Linked DNA regions of Homo sapiens: region 2 is linked to region 1. Evidence: fine-mapped expression QTL. Tissue or cell type: whole blood. Region 1 holds a variant in brackets; the other region holds the start of a gene. All regions are shown on one strand. Distances are between the middles of the regions.

Region 1 (6,270 bases):
CCTGGACCGGCCCAGCCCTCCTTCCTGTCCCTCGGTTCTGTCCTTCATTCTGGCCCACAGTGGCAGCGGCCCTTCTGAGGATGCCCTGGTCACGGAACAGCATTCGTCTCCTTCTCAGTCCCAGCCTGTGCTCAACCCAGGGGCTGTGGAGCTGCAGTCAGGAGCTGTGGTGAGAAGACTGACTTCCTTGGGAAGGCGAGTCACACAGGAAAACCACGAGAGAGAATGACTTTGCAAGGGGCTGGAGAGGAAAGGAAGCAGGGAGATTCCAGCCTGCTCAGAAGAAATCAGCTTACTTGCTGCTGGAAGTTATTAGGGCTGACACCAGTGCAAAGGCCTGGCAGCCACAGTGGGGCCGGCGCCATGGCGGGGTCAGCGCCACGTGTTAGTTCCCCCGGCTGCTGTGACGAAGCACCGCGGCAAGGTGGGTTAAATCACGAGGGCGTTTGTTGTCTTGCAGTTCTGGAGGCCAGAAGTCGAGATCAAGGTGTCAGCAGGGCTGGTTCCTTCTGGGGCCATAAGGGAGAATCTGTCCTGGGCTGCCTTCCAGCCTCAGGGGGCTTGCTGGCCATCTTGGGTGTGTACTTGGCTTACAGAAGCATCACTCCAGTCCCTGCCTTCAGTCCACGTGGGGTTCTGCCCAGGTGTGGGCCTGCACCCAAATTTTCCCCATGGGTAAGGACACCAGTCAAGTTGGCTTAGGGCCCACCCTACTCCTGGATGACCTTATCTTAACTTTAGTTACACCTGCAATGACCCTGTTTCCAAATAAGGTCACATTTTAAGGTATTGGGGGTTAGGACTTCAACATATGAGCTTGCTGGGGGGCCCCAATTCAACCCCAAACAGCACACTCGCGCCTCCCTGCTAAATCCTTGCCGTACTAGACTCAGGGCACCTGCCAAGAAGAGGGGTCTACCTGCTGTTGGTTTCCGCTGTGGCCTGAGCTGAGCTGGTACGACTTTGGCAGACAGTTCCAGAGCCGATTCCTGGAAGGGTGTCTCAGCCCTCCCTGATCCCAGGACTCACAGAGGAAGTCAAAGCCAGGCCTTGTGCATTGCAGACTCAGCCCCCCGGAGGTCTTTGTGAGGCACCATAAGAGGAGACAAGATGTCCCAGCAGGCTCCAACTCCTCTGGGGAACCAGAGGCGTCCAGGACTGTGGGATTGTCCTGACCTGGTGGCCAGTGTGACCGGGCAGCAAGGCCTTCACCTCTGACTCCTGGGAGGCTGTGCTCAGCCCATCTTGGGCTCCTGCTGCTGAGGTCCTCTCCATCTCATTGGTGAAATCTCCACCAAAATGCTTCCTCTGAAAGCTGGGTTGTCCACCACTGTGCCCCGTCGCGCTCTCCTCCTCCCCATCATGGTCTTCAAAGCCCCAGGCGAGCCACGGTGGCCTATACCTGTAATCTCAGTACTTTGGGAGGCTGAGGTTGGAGGATCATGTGGGGCCCGGAGCTTGAGGTTACAGTGAGCCGTGGTCACGCCACTGTGCTCCAGCCTGGGCGACACGGCCTTTATCACGGTGGGAAATGGTCTCATTTCTGAACACTCATTTGCAGGCTGGCTGACTCCCTCCACTGCGTACACACGTGAATCCGGTCTTGTGTGGCCACATGCTCCACAGCGAGCCTGAGCTGTCGATTGATGTCAATGAATGTGGATGCGGGGGCTCCAAGAAAGAGAGCACCTGTGCTCTGTTCCTCAAACTCTTTTTCCCTCAAGTGTAGCCTACAGGGAATTGCGTTCTGTGGAGCATCCTCTGGGGGCACTGACCAACAGGCCAAGGTCCGAACTGTCCAGCCCTCCCAGTGGGCCTCTGCTTAGCCTCAACCTCTGCCTGGTCTCTCCCAGCATCACCAGGGGGTTCCCTACAGTCTGTCGGCTGCTTCCCACCTCTTGGCTTTCATTCAAGCTGTCCTCATGCTGCGCCTTCCAGGAACCCTCCCTGGCACTCCAGACCTCTCTCCAGCCTGAGTGAGGAGTCTCCCCTCTGACCTCCCACAACAACACCCTTGATGGTTCCTCTGTTACACTTTCCGTGTGTGATAATTAACTGTTCACCTATTGATCTCTGCCATCAAATCGTGAGCTCCTTAGGGCTGAACTGTGCAATTCCTGGATCATAGTTGGTGCTTAGTGCATGTTTGTAGGGCAGGTGGATGGATGGATGGATGGATGGATGGATGGGTGGATGGACGGTTGGATGGTTGGATGGATGGATGGATGGATGGACTGATGATTAGATGGATGGGTGGGTGGATGGATGGATGGCAAATGAATGAGTGGATGGGTGGATGGATGGGTGGGTGGATGGGTGGATGGATGAGTGGATGGGTGGATGGATGGGTGGGTGGATGGGTGGGTGCATGAGTGGATGGGTGGATGGATGATTGGATGGATGGATGGATGGATGGATGGATAAATGGATGGGTGGGTGGGTAGATGGGTGGGTGGATGAGTGGAAGATTGGATGATGGGTAGACGGATTGGTGGGTGGACAGGTGGGTACATGGGTGGATAGATGGATGGATGATTAGTTGGGTGGATGGATGGATGGATGCATGGATTGGTGGATGGGTAGATGAATGGATGGGTGGATGGATGGATAGGTAAATATATGGATGGGTAAATGGATGAGTGGGTGGGTGGGTGGATGGATGGATGACTTTTACAAGAAGCAGCCAGCCCACCATTTGCGTCAGGGCCCAAGGTGGCTCATTAGAATTGGTATGTGGTTGTACAAATGCCCGAGCTGCTAATTTTCCCACATCCAAGCACAATTAAACCTTGCCTCTGGAGCCTACCAGTCACTCTTGATGTTCTTTGTTTTTGTTTTTTATTTATTTTTCTTTAGAGATAGAGTCTTGCTATGTTACGCAGGCTAGCCTTGAATTCCTGGGCTCAGGGGATCCTCCTGCCTCAGCCTCCCCGTAGCTGGGACTACAGGCTGTTTTTCTCTTCATTAGCCTTTGCAAATGGTTTCAAGAGTTCAAAAATTAATGTATCTGATGTCATAATGAGAAACATACTGTGATGCTGTTAGTCTTTCCAAAGTTGGCATTCTCTTCTTTCACAGACTCCTAGAGGTTCAAGGTGGCAAAGTCCTGTCTTTCTGTTTGCATACTCACTTGCTAAATTTGCTGCATCAGATTCATTTGGGCTTTGCTATGGTCTTTCTTTTCCATAGTAATTGGAATTAAAATTATAAGTTCAGTAAACTTCCCTCTTCTGCTCTATCCAATTGCTGAATTCAGACGTGTTCCATGTTCCCAACATCTCAGAGGCTCCCCTCACCACTTTTCCCACCCCAATGATGACATCAGCCATTTATCCCCCCTGTGTGCTGTTCAAGAGGAGCACTTTGGAAACCTGGCCACTGTCCTGTGGCCTAACTGTGACACAGCTGAAGACACAGGCTGGGCAGCCTTTGGTATTGATGTGACTGTTTAGAATTGCACTGCCTTTCTTTACCAGAGAATGACATTTCATAGTAGTTCAAACCGAAGTGGGGCTGTTGCAGGGAGTTTTTGCTGCCTTCTGTAAGAGAGTGGCAGGAAGCAACATTCAGGCAGCCGGTGCGG[G/A]AGTGTCTGGCAGCTGCAGAAGGTGGCTGGACTTTTAGACATCCGGGTGAACATGCTGAAGTGACGTTGATCCACTGACTTGAGAACATCAGTGACAAGGGTTCAGACTCTGTGGTGAGACACAGGAAGCTGTTGGCAGGGCAGGTGCCCTTCACTCTTCTAGCCTCTGCTTCTCATGGCTCCCTGTCTTTCTGTGACTTGAGCTGTGGCTGTATCTCACCCGTACTGTTCCCTTCCTCACCACAGGGATGGACCCGCTGGGCACCAGCTCACTTCTCGGCTCTGTATTGTTAATGTGTGTGGCTCCCCCACTAGACTTGGCTTTTGGGGGACACATAGTGTCTGATCTACCCCTGAGGTCCTCCTCATGGCCCTACCCTGTCTGTTCAGCAACTGGCCACAGGGGATAAACACCCTTCCAAAGGCAGTGTTCCTGGGCCACTGGCATCCAAACAGTGCCCCCTGCTGTGGTTTGAATGTGTGCCCCAAAGTTCATGTGTTGGTAACTTAATCCCCACTGCAACAGCGTTGAGAGGGGGGACCTTAAAGAGGTGATGAGGTCATGAAGGCTTTGCCCTCCTGAGCGGATTGATGTTATTGCAAGAGTGGGTTTGTTATTGCTGCAGTGGGGTCCTTATAAAGGGTGAGCATGGCCCCCTTCCCCTCTCTCTTGCCCATGCGATGCCTTCCTCCATGTGGTGACATAGCAAGAAGGCCCTAGTCAGATGGGGCCCCTCCACCTTGGGCTTCCCAGCCTCCAGACTGTGAGCCAGAAACATGTCTGTTCATTATAAATTACCTAGACTGTGGTACTCTGTTATAGCAGCAGGAAGCAAAGGAAGACACCCATCCACATGGCCCCAGGAATGGCTGACCCAGAAGGACCCAGGCTCATGCTCTCGGTGAAATCCTGGGTTCTACCTCCCCACTCTGCTCTCTTGTTCCCTTTGGCCCTTCCAAGCCCAGCCGGTTCCCTTGGGCAGTACCTCATTGGTTTTTCTACCTGTGACATCTCTGTATGGGGCCCCTTGGCTCTCTCTGTCCACCCATTCCCCCTCCCACGCCACCAGAGCTTCCAGCCAACCAGGGCAGGGAGGCAGGAGAGGGCCTTTCCTGTGGCAAGTGAAGGGTGTCTGGGGTTGAGATGGCCATCAGCGATCTGACCTACCCGTGGGCAATCGGCCAGCCTTGGCCTGGCCTCGGTCTCAACCTGCTGGTAGAAGCCATTGTTCTTATGCCACACTCAACTCTCTGTTGAACGTCAGGGCCCTTCCCCTGATTTCTCATCTCCAGGGGTGCTTCAGTAGCAGGATGCTTGTCCAGATAGCCTTCCCAGCTTCAGGGTGTTGGTCCAAGGGGCTGGAGCTGCGGGGCTGAATACTTCCCATGGGCTTCTCCTTTCACAGGGAAACAAGTTCCTCGCCACAGGCAGGGCCCGAGGGTGCCATCTGCTGCCAGCAGGCACTTTCCTTTCTTCTTGAAATGGCATCTCTTCTGATCACAAAAGCAATACTTGATCCGCGATGAGACTTTAGAAAATGATAATTTACCTGTAATCTTACTACTCAAGTAAGTGTAAGATTAATGCCTTACCTTGAGTATCTTCCCCAGTGTGTCATTTATGTACATATGACATCTCTAATTTTTATTTTTATTATTTTATTTATTTTAAGAGACAGGGTCTTGCTCGTTGCCCAGGCTGGAGTGGAGTGCAGTGGTGTGATCACAGCTCACTGTACCCTTGAACTCCTGGGCTCAAGCGATCCTCCCACCTCAGCTTCCAGAGTAGCTGGTACTACAGGTGCACACCATCATGCCTGGCTAATTTTGGATTTTTTGTAGAGACAGAGGTCTTGTCATGTTGCCCAGACTGGTCTTGAACTCCTGGCCTCAAGTGATCCTCCCGCCTCAGCCTCCCAATAATTGTTGGGATCACAGGCATGAGCCACTACACCTCGCCTCTAATTTTTTAAATGCTACATTTTTCATTTCATATTTTAACATTTCCAGTGGACCATCCTTCTGGAGATTGTTTCACCATAGGGATATGACCTAATGTATTGAGTCAACCCACTGTTGATGGACATTTAGCTTATAAGCTATTTCTTGCATATGAGTTTGCTGGGCGATTACAAGAAAAACATTCTCTTCTGTTGTTTGTGAGATGTACAGCTCAGTAATTTGTGGTACATCCATGAGGCTGTACAGCCAATATCACTGTCTAATTCAAAACATTTTCATCACCCCATAAAGAAAAACCCTCCCCATCAGCAGTCACCATGTTCCCCTCCCCCTTCAGCTGTTGCGACCACGGTTCTGCTTTCTGCCCCTATGGGTTTCGCCTGTTCTAGACATTTCATGTGAATGGAATCAATCATACAGTATGTGATTTTTTTTTTTTTTTTTGAAGGAGTCTCACTCTGTTGTCAGGCTGGAGTGCAGTGGCATGATCTCGGCTCACTGCAAGCTCCGCCTCCCGGGTTCACGCCATTCTTCTGCCTCAGCCTCCTGAGTAGCTGGGACTACAGGCGCCCGCCACCATGCCTGGCTAATTTTTTTTGTATTTTTAGTAGAGACAGGGTTTCATCGTGTTAGCCAGGATGGTCTCGATCTCCTGACCTCGTGATCCGCCCACCTTGGCCTCCCAAAGTGCTGGGATTACAGGTGTGAGCCACTGCACCCGGCCA
Region 2 (5,635 bases), 21 kb after region 1:
CCAGGGGCTCCAGACCTCTCCTGGCAGGGCTCCAGGCCCACCTGCAGCCATCTGGGCCAGGCCAACATCACCTCCAGGCCTCTCCTGGCTGCTCCCTCCCCTTCCCTCTCCTCCTGCCATTGCTGGCCGATGCCTCCAGTACCTCCCTCCCTAGCTGCAGCTCAGCCCTCAGTCATCCATCGCCTCCTGCAGCTTCTCCTCCCAACCCCAACTCCTTCCTGCTCCCCCAGGCAGTGGTGCCCACACTACCAGGCAAGGTTTGAGCCCAGGGACACCAGGGAAGTGCTTGGTCCTCAGTGTGGTGGGGAGGTGAGGGTGAGTCCTTAAATGGCCTAAATTGAGGCTAAAAATCTCTTAGACTGGGGTAGCATGCAGGTGCCTCCCCATAGACACACCTGCGCACCTGTGCTGCCCACTGCCACACAGAACAAATCTCTTGGCCCATGGCAGGAAGGGGGCGTGCACTATGCCCAGCAGGTGCACTTGTACTAGGCCAGGTGTCCGCTTTAGCTGTCGGCAGCAACTCACCCAGTGGCCAAAGCAGGGATGGGGCAACTTTGCAAAATGCTCATCCCCAAGTGGAGAGCTGGGTCCCCAGAGCCCAAACACACCCTGCTCCTCCCCAGACTTGGGCACCTTTCTTTACCATGCACAGCTCTGAGCAGCCATGCAGACAAACCTGGAGGGCCTCAGTGCTGAGTTCTTGTGAGGGGCTCTGCCTTGGGCCCTGGCGTCACTGTGGGGCGGGAACAGGAAGGGCCCCTGCTAACATCAAGGGGGTTGTCTCAATGTCCATGCAGGGCTGTCTCATAGCAGTGTCCGAGTTCCCCACTGGGTCCTGCAGGGCTCTGTGGGAACACACATTATTCTGAAGCCCACACCACAGGCTTACACCCAGCAGGACCAGCCAGGCCAGGAGGCTCTGGCCTCTGCATTCCTATAGCCCTGAGCCGTGTGTGGCAGCACTAATCTCCATTCTGCTGAGATTTCTGGGAGACCCCAGCAAATCCCTGAGCGTCTAGTCCCATGTCCTGATCTGCAAGCCGGGCATGCAAAACACAGGGAGATGCACACGAAGCTTTCACAGGAGTCCTGGTGCTGAGGTTTTGCATTTTTTGTTCAGTTTCATTGCCAGCAGCAGCCCCTGTGTCCCACTGAGTACTTCTGGAGGGGTCCAGCCACCTTATGCCTCCACACTCTCCAGCCTGCGGGGCCTGGCCCTTGGCACATCCAGGCCACCAACCTCAAAAATCAAATCAGTGAGATGGGTCGGGCGAGGTGGCTCACACCTGTAATCCCAGAACTTTGGGAGGCCGAGGCGGGCGGATCACGAGGTCAGGAGATCCAGACCATCCATGGTGAAACCCCATCTCTACTAAAAATACAAAAATTAGCTGGGCGTGGTGGCACGCGCCTGTAGTCCCAGCTACTTGGGAGGCTGAGGCAGGGGAATCGCTTGAACCCGGGAGGCGGAGGTTGCAGTGAACTGACATCACGCCACTGCATTCCAGCCTGGGCAACAGAGCCGTCTCAAAAAAAAAAAAAAAAAAAATCTGCGAGAGGGTGGGGGGTGCCGAGGCCAGTCTGGGCCAGCCTTAGGGTCAGGGGTCACTAGGGAGACCCGCCAGCTGGGATTTGATGAAGGGTTCACTCCCGTCCCCACTTAGGGCGTCCTCGGCCAGAGGTGGCCAGCGCCTGCCTCTAGGAACGTCCCTGCCCCTCAGGCCAGACACAGAGCATGCAGCCCCCCACTCCGGGGAGCCTCTCGACTCTGGCCGCACGTCTGTGTCCCTTCCCCAGACCTGGGCCCTCCCTCAGCTCCGGCGTCCACTGGGCGATCTGAGGAGCCCGCCCGCTCTGGGCCTGTTTCCCCACTGACACCCTCAGAGACGCCTGGCTCTTAGGATCAGAGCGTCTGCGTCCCTCTCCGAGGTCCCGGCCCTTCCCGGGGCCACTCTGCGCCCGGCGGGGAGGGGAGTCGTTCACGGCCCCACGCAAGACCCCCGGGCAGAGCGCGAGGCCTCGTCCCCCCACGCAGCCACTGCTTTCGTCGCGCTCAGACCCGGCGGCCCGGCCCGGCCCGGCGCACGCCCCGGAGCGCCCTGCTTCGCTCTCGTAGCGGAGACGCTCCTGCGTCCTAACGGGCCCCCAGGACGGCGGGCGGTCCCCGCGCGCTGCGCTTCCTCTCGGCAACGCGTCCGGCTGCGGCGCCCTCATTGGCCGCGCGCCCCGCCACCGGCCATTGGCTCGCAGTGCCTGTTTTACATAGGCCGCTCTGGCCAATCGGCGCGCGGCGCCTACTTAACATGCACGGCGGCCGCCAGTCAGCTAGCGCGGGGGCCGGGCCACCACGTGCTGTTGCTAAGCTCGGGCTTCTAAATTGTTACTAGCGCGGCCGGCCTATCCCAGCCCAGCTCTGCATCTGTCAACATTCTCGGCCCGGCCCGAGGCGCTCGACCCGTCCCCATTGGCCCCAGCCCGGCCCGGCGCCCGCCCCCGGGGCGCGAACGCCGCCTCCCATTGGCTCTGCGGGCCGCCGCTCTCCCTTATGTGTCAATTTGAGGGCCTGAGGCGGAGGGTGGCGGCCGAGCGCCGGAGTCCGCGGAGTCTGGAAGTGCGGCGGCCGGGCGCGCGGGGTGGGCGGCGAGCGGAGCCGGCCGGAGCGGGCCGGGCAGCGGCCGCCGCCGTCCCGGGGCGGACGGGCGCGGGCGGGAGGATGGAGCTGAACTCCCTGCTGATCCTGCTGGAGGCGGCCGAGTACCTGGAGCGCAGGGATCGAGGTAGCGCTCGCACCCCATTGTGCGCCCGCGGCGGTGGGCGGGCGGCGGGGCCGTGCCGGGCGGGGGCCGCTGACCGCGCCGTGTGTCCGCAGAGGCCGAGCACGGCTACGCCTCGGTGCTGCCCTTCGACGGCGACTTCGCCAGGGAGAAAACAAAGGCGGCCGGCCTGGTGCGCAAGGCCCCGAACAACAGGTACCGCCCCCCGCTCCCGACCCCGCCCGGCCCGGTCCGAACCCCCGCCCCCGCCCGGAGCGTGCTCTCCGGGCCCCGATTCCCGGCCCGCGGCCCTCAGCGCCGCCGCCGCGCGCCCCGGCGGCCAGCCTGGAGGAGGAGGCGCGCAGGCCGCGGCCGCAGCCCCGCCCGGCCGGCCCCGCCCTCGCCGTCGCCATCTTCCCGCGGCCGCGCCTCCCGGGCCGCTCGCGTAAACAGTGCCACGCGTACAGCGCCCGCCGCCGGGGTCCGCTCCCGCGCCCGCTCCCCGCCCCCGAGTTGTTCTGGACTTTTCCAGGCGGTAGAAAAGTTGTCAGCGGGCGCTGGCCGGTGCCCCGTGGGTCTGGGGAAACAGGCTCAGCCAGGGTCTGCGGGGGCTGCCGGCCCTAACCCCTTCTCTCCGCGGGTGGGTGGGCGGCCTCCTTTCGACTGGCTCTGCCAGCCGAACTCTGCTGCTCGGCCACCTTCCCCCGCCCCCAGGAGCCTAGACAGAGAAGCGAGTGGAGGCGCTGTCCTGGGCCCTCACTCCTCCCAGGGTGCCCACCGCTTCTGCCCAGCCTCCTGACACAGCGAAACTCCAGCCACCAGTATGGGGGTCCTCTTTTTTAAGACAGAGGCCTTTTAAGGGGGCGGGAGGAGGGGGCAGGCTGCAGGGCAGGGGCCCCATGAAGTCGTTACTACGGGTGCCAGCTGCGCCCTCCATACCTTGACCTCGTGTTCAGGCAGCAGAAGCCCTGAAGCTGGGGTGCGTACAGGTCCCCCGCGTGGGGAGTGGGGACCCTGGGCCGGGGCTCCCCGGGGATTTCCACCCTCCTGGCTGCTGTGAGGACCATAGCACACCTGGTCCTGTCTGGGCCCACCTTGGCCCAGCCCTTTTGTGTGAGCAGGCTGGGAGCTGCGTTTGTAGGGGGCTTCAGAGCCCCAGGGCATGGCTCATTCCTGTGGTCCACCTGTTCTAGGGAATCCGAAAGGCTGGTGTAGGGACCCATTTCTGTGGCATCCTGAGCCAGGCGAGGAATTGGTTGAGTCTCCAGCTGCCCTGGCTGGGACCCGTCCCTGAGTCCCAGCCCCTGGTCCCCTACTGGGGACAGTTTGGGGAAGGACAGGAGTGTGACGAGGGAACCATTGCCTCAGGCCTCCTCAGTGAGCAAGCCCGGCCCCCGCTGCCGCTTCTCTCCAAACCAAGTCCCTGACCCGTGGAGAACTCTGGGGCGTGAGCTGGGGCTCCCCCAGCATGGAGAATCCAAAGCTGACAACCAGCGTCCTGGCCAAGGCTGCCCGAACACTGCCTCTATGCTGAGCGTTTCACACATGCAGCCAGTTCATCTTCACCCCAGGCTCAGAGAGGTGATGTGATTTTTATCTCTATGGCCAAGGAAACTGAGGCAAGGAGAGGTTTGGTTACTTGCCTGCCACTCACCCATCTCTGATGACGCCTGTTCCTGAGATGGGGTCCCAGCTGTCCACATTCTGCTGGGACAGAGACCATGGGGGCACTGGTGAGGGAGACAGAGGGCTCCCCAACTCTGGTGCATCTCCCCTGGCTCCTCTGGGCCGAGCCCCGCTCCCCCGGGGCCTGAGGCAGCCCAGGGCTGGCGGCTTGGCCCCTTCCTCGGGTGGGCAGCACTGCCCTGGAGGTTTCCTCAGCCAGCCCAGACAAGTAGCTGGGCGGAGCAGGGGGCCAGAGGATCTCTGAGCCCCTGACTTGTCCCCACCTGTGAGGCTTCCATGCTCTGCCAAGGTGAGGGAGGGGACATGGCACAGTGAGGCTGGGGCAAGGGTAGGGAGTGGGGCCGGAGGACAGTGTCAGGGTTGAGGGAGGCGGCAGAGCACTGGGGCCAGCCTGCAGGGGGGTCCATTCTGTGGGAAGTGTGCTTGTCTCCTGGGGTCACGGGAATGCTGGGAACGCACTTGGCCTGGCCTCAGCGGGGACAGGTCCCACCTCTCCTGAGGGATAGAGTGCTCCTGGGACCCATGTTGCAAACATCCCCCTCGATGGACCCCAAGGGTCTCTGGGCCCAGGAGGAGCTGCAAGAGGGGCCCTGGCTGCTGGAGGAGGGCCCCCTGCCTCCAGGGTGGGGTCCAGCCCCGTGCCACCCTTCAAGGGGTAGGCAGGTAGGCTTTTATGTTGAAGGGCACCTGCTGACCCCGACCTCCCTCTTGACTACAGACCCACGTGGCCAGGCTGCAGTTTGGGCTGAGGACAGAGAGTACGGCTCATTCCTGCGGCCTGCCTATTCTGGGGAAGCAGAAACGCTGGCGTAGGGGCCTATCTCTGTGAGGCCAGTGAGGAGCATATGGCTGTGGCCTCTGCTGGCCCTGGTCGGCCCTGGCTGGCCCTGGCAGTGATTCGGAGGCTCCTTGTCCAGCCCATGTGACCAACAGGCCCTCCCGGACCCTGAGACCTGGGTCTGGAGGCTCTGCTGAGGCTACACAAGGAGGCCCAGGGCCTGTTGGTGCAGCGGGTGGGAGGGGCAGGCCCTTGGCCTGAGTGGTTGGGACAGGAGACGCCAGATCCCAAGTTCCTGAAGCAGGCAGTGGTCAGCAAGAAGCTTCAGGAAGGAGCCAGGTCCTGAGGGCAGGGAGAGGCCTCAGGGCTGGGTCTGGAGGTGCCCCGAGGCAGTCTGAGCTCTCTGCCCACCTGT

What was found. PIP is the estimated chance that this variant, and not a neighbour inherited with it, causes the effect.
Region 2: MXD4 starts here. The variant in region 1 is fine-mapped to the expression of MXD4 in whole blood (TOPMed, PIP above 0.99).

Annotation. Positions count from the first base shown.
Region 1 is chr4:2,279,497-2,285,766 of GRCh38, reverse strand. The region is part of intron 8 of ZFYVE28 (zinc finger FYVE-type containing 28); the gene reads left to right. Among named protein-coding and RNA genes, the nearest start is that of MXD4, 21 kb to the right of the region's middle. RefSeq lists enhancers at 1-301, 3,382-3,441, 4,210-4,709, 4,710-5,211. The variant G/A (reference allele first, on the strand shown) is at 3,584.
Region 2 is chr4:2,259,062-2,264,696 of GRCh38, reverse strand. It overlaps MXD4 (MAX dimerization protein 4), which reads left to right and starts at 2,588. Exons shown (of 6, transcript NM_006454.3): 1 at 2,588-2,780; 2 at 2,873-2,972. The coding sequence starts at 2,717. RefSeq lists enhancers at 916-1,575, 1,576-2,237, 3,469-4,061 and silencers at 1,869-2,708, 2,759-2,818, 2,909-3,298, 3,309-3,368.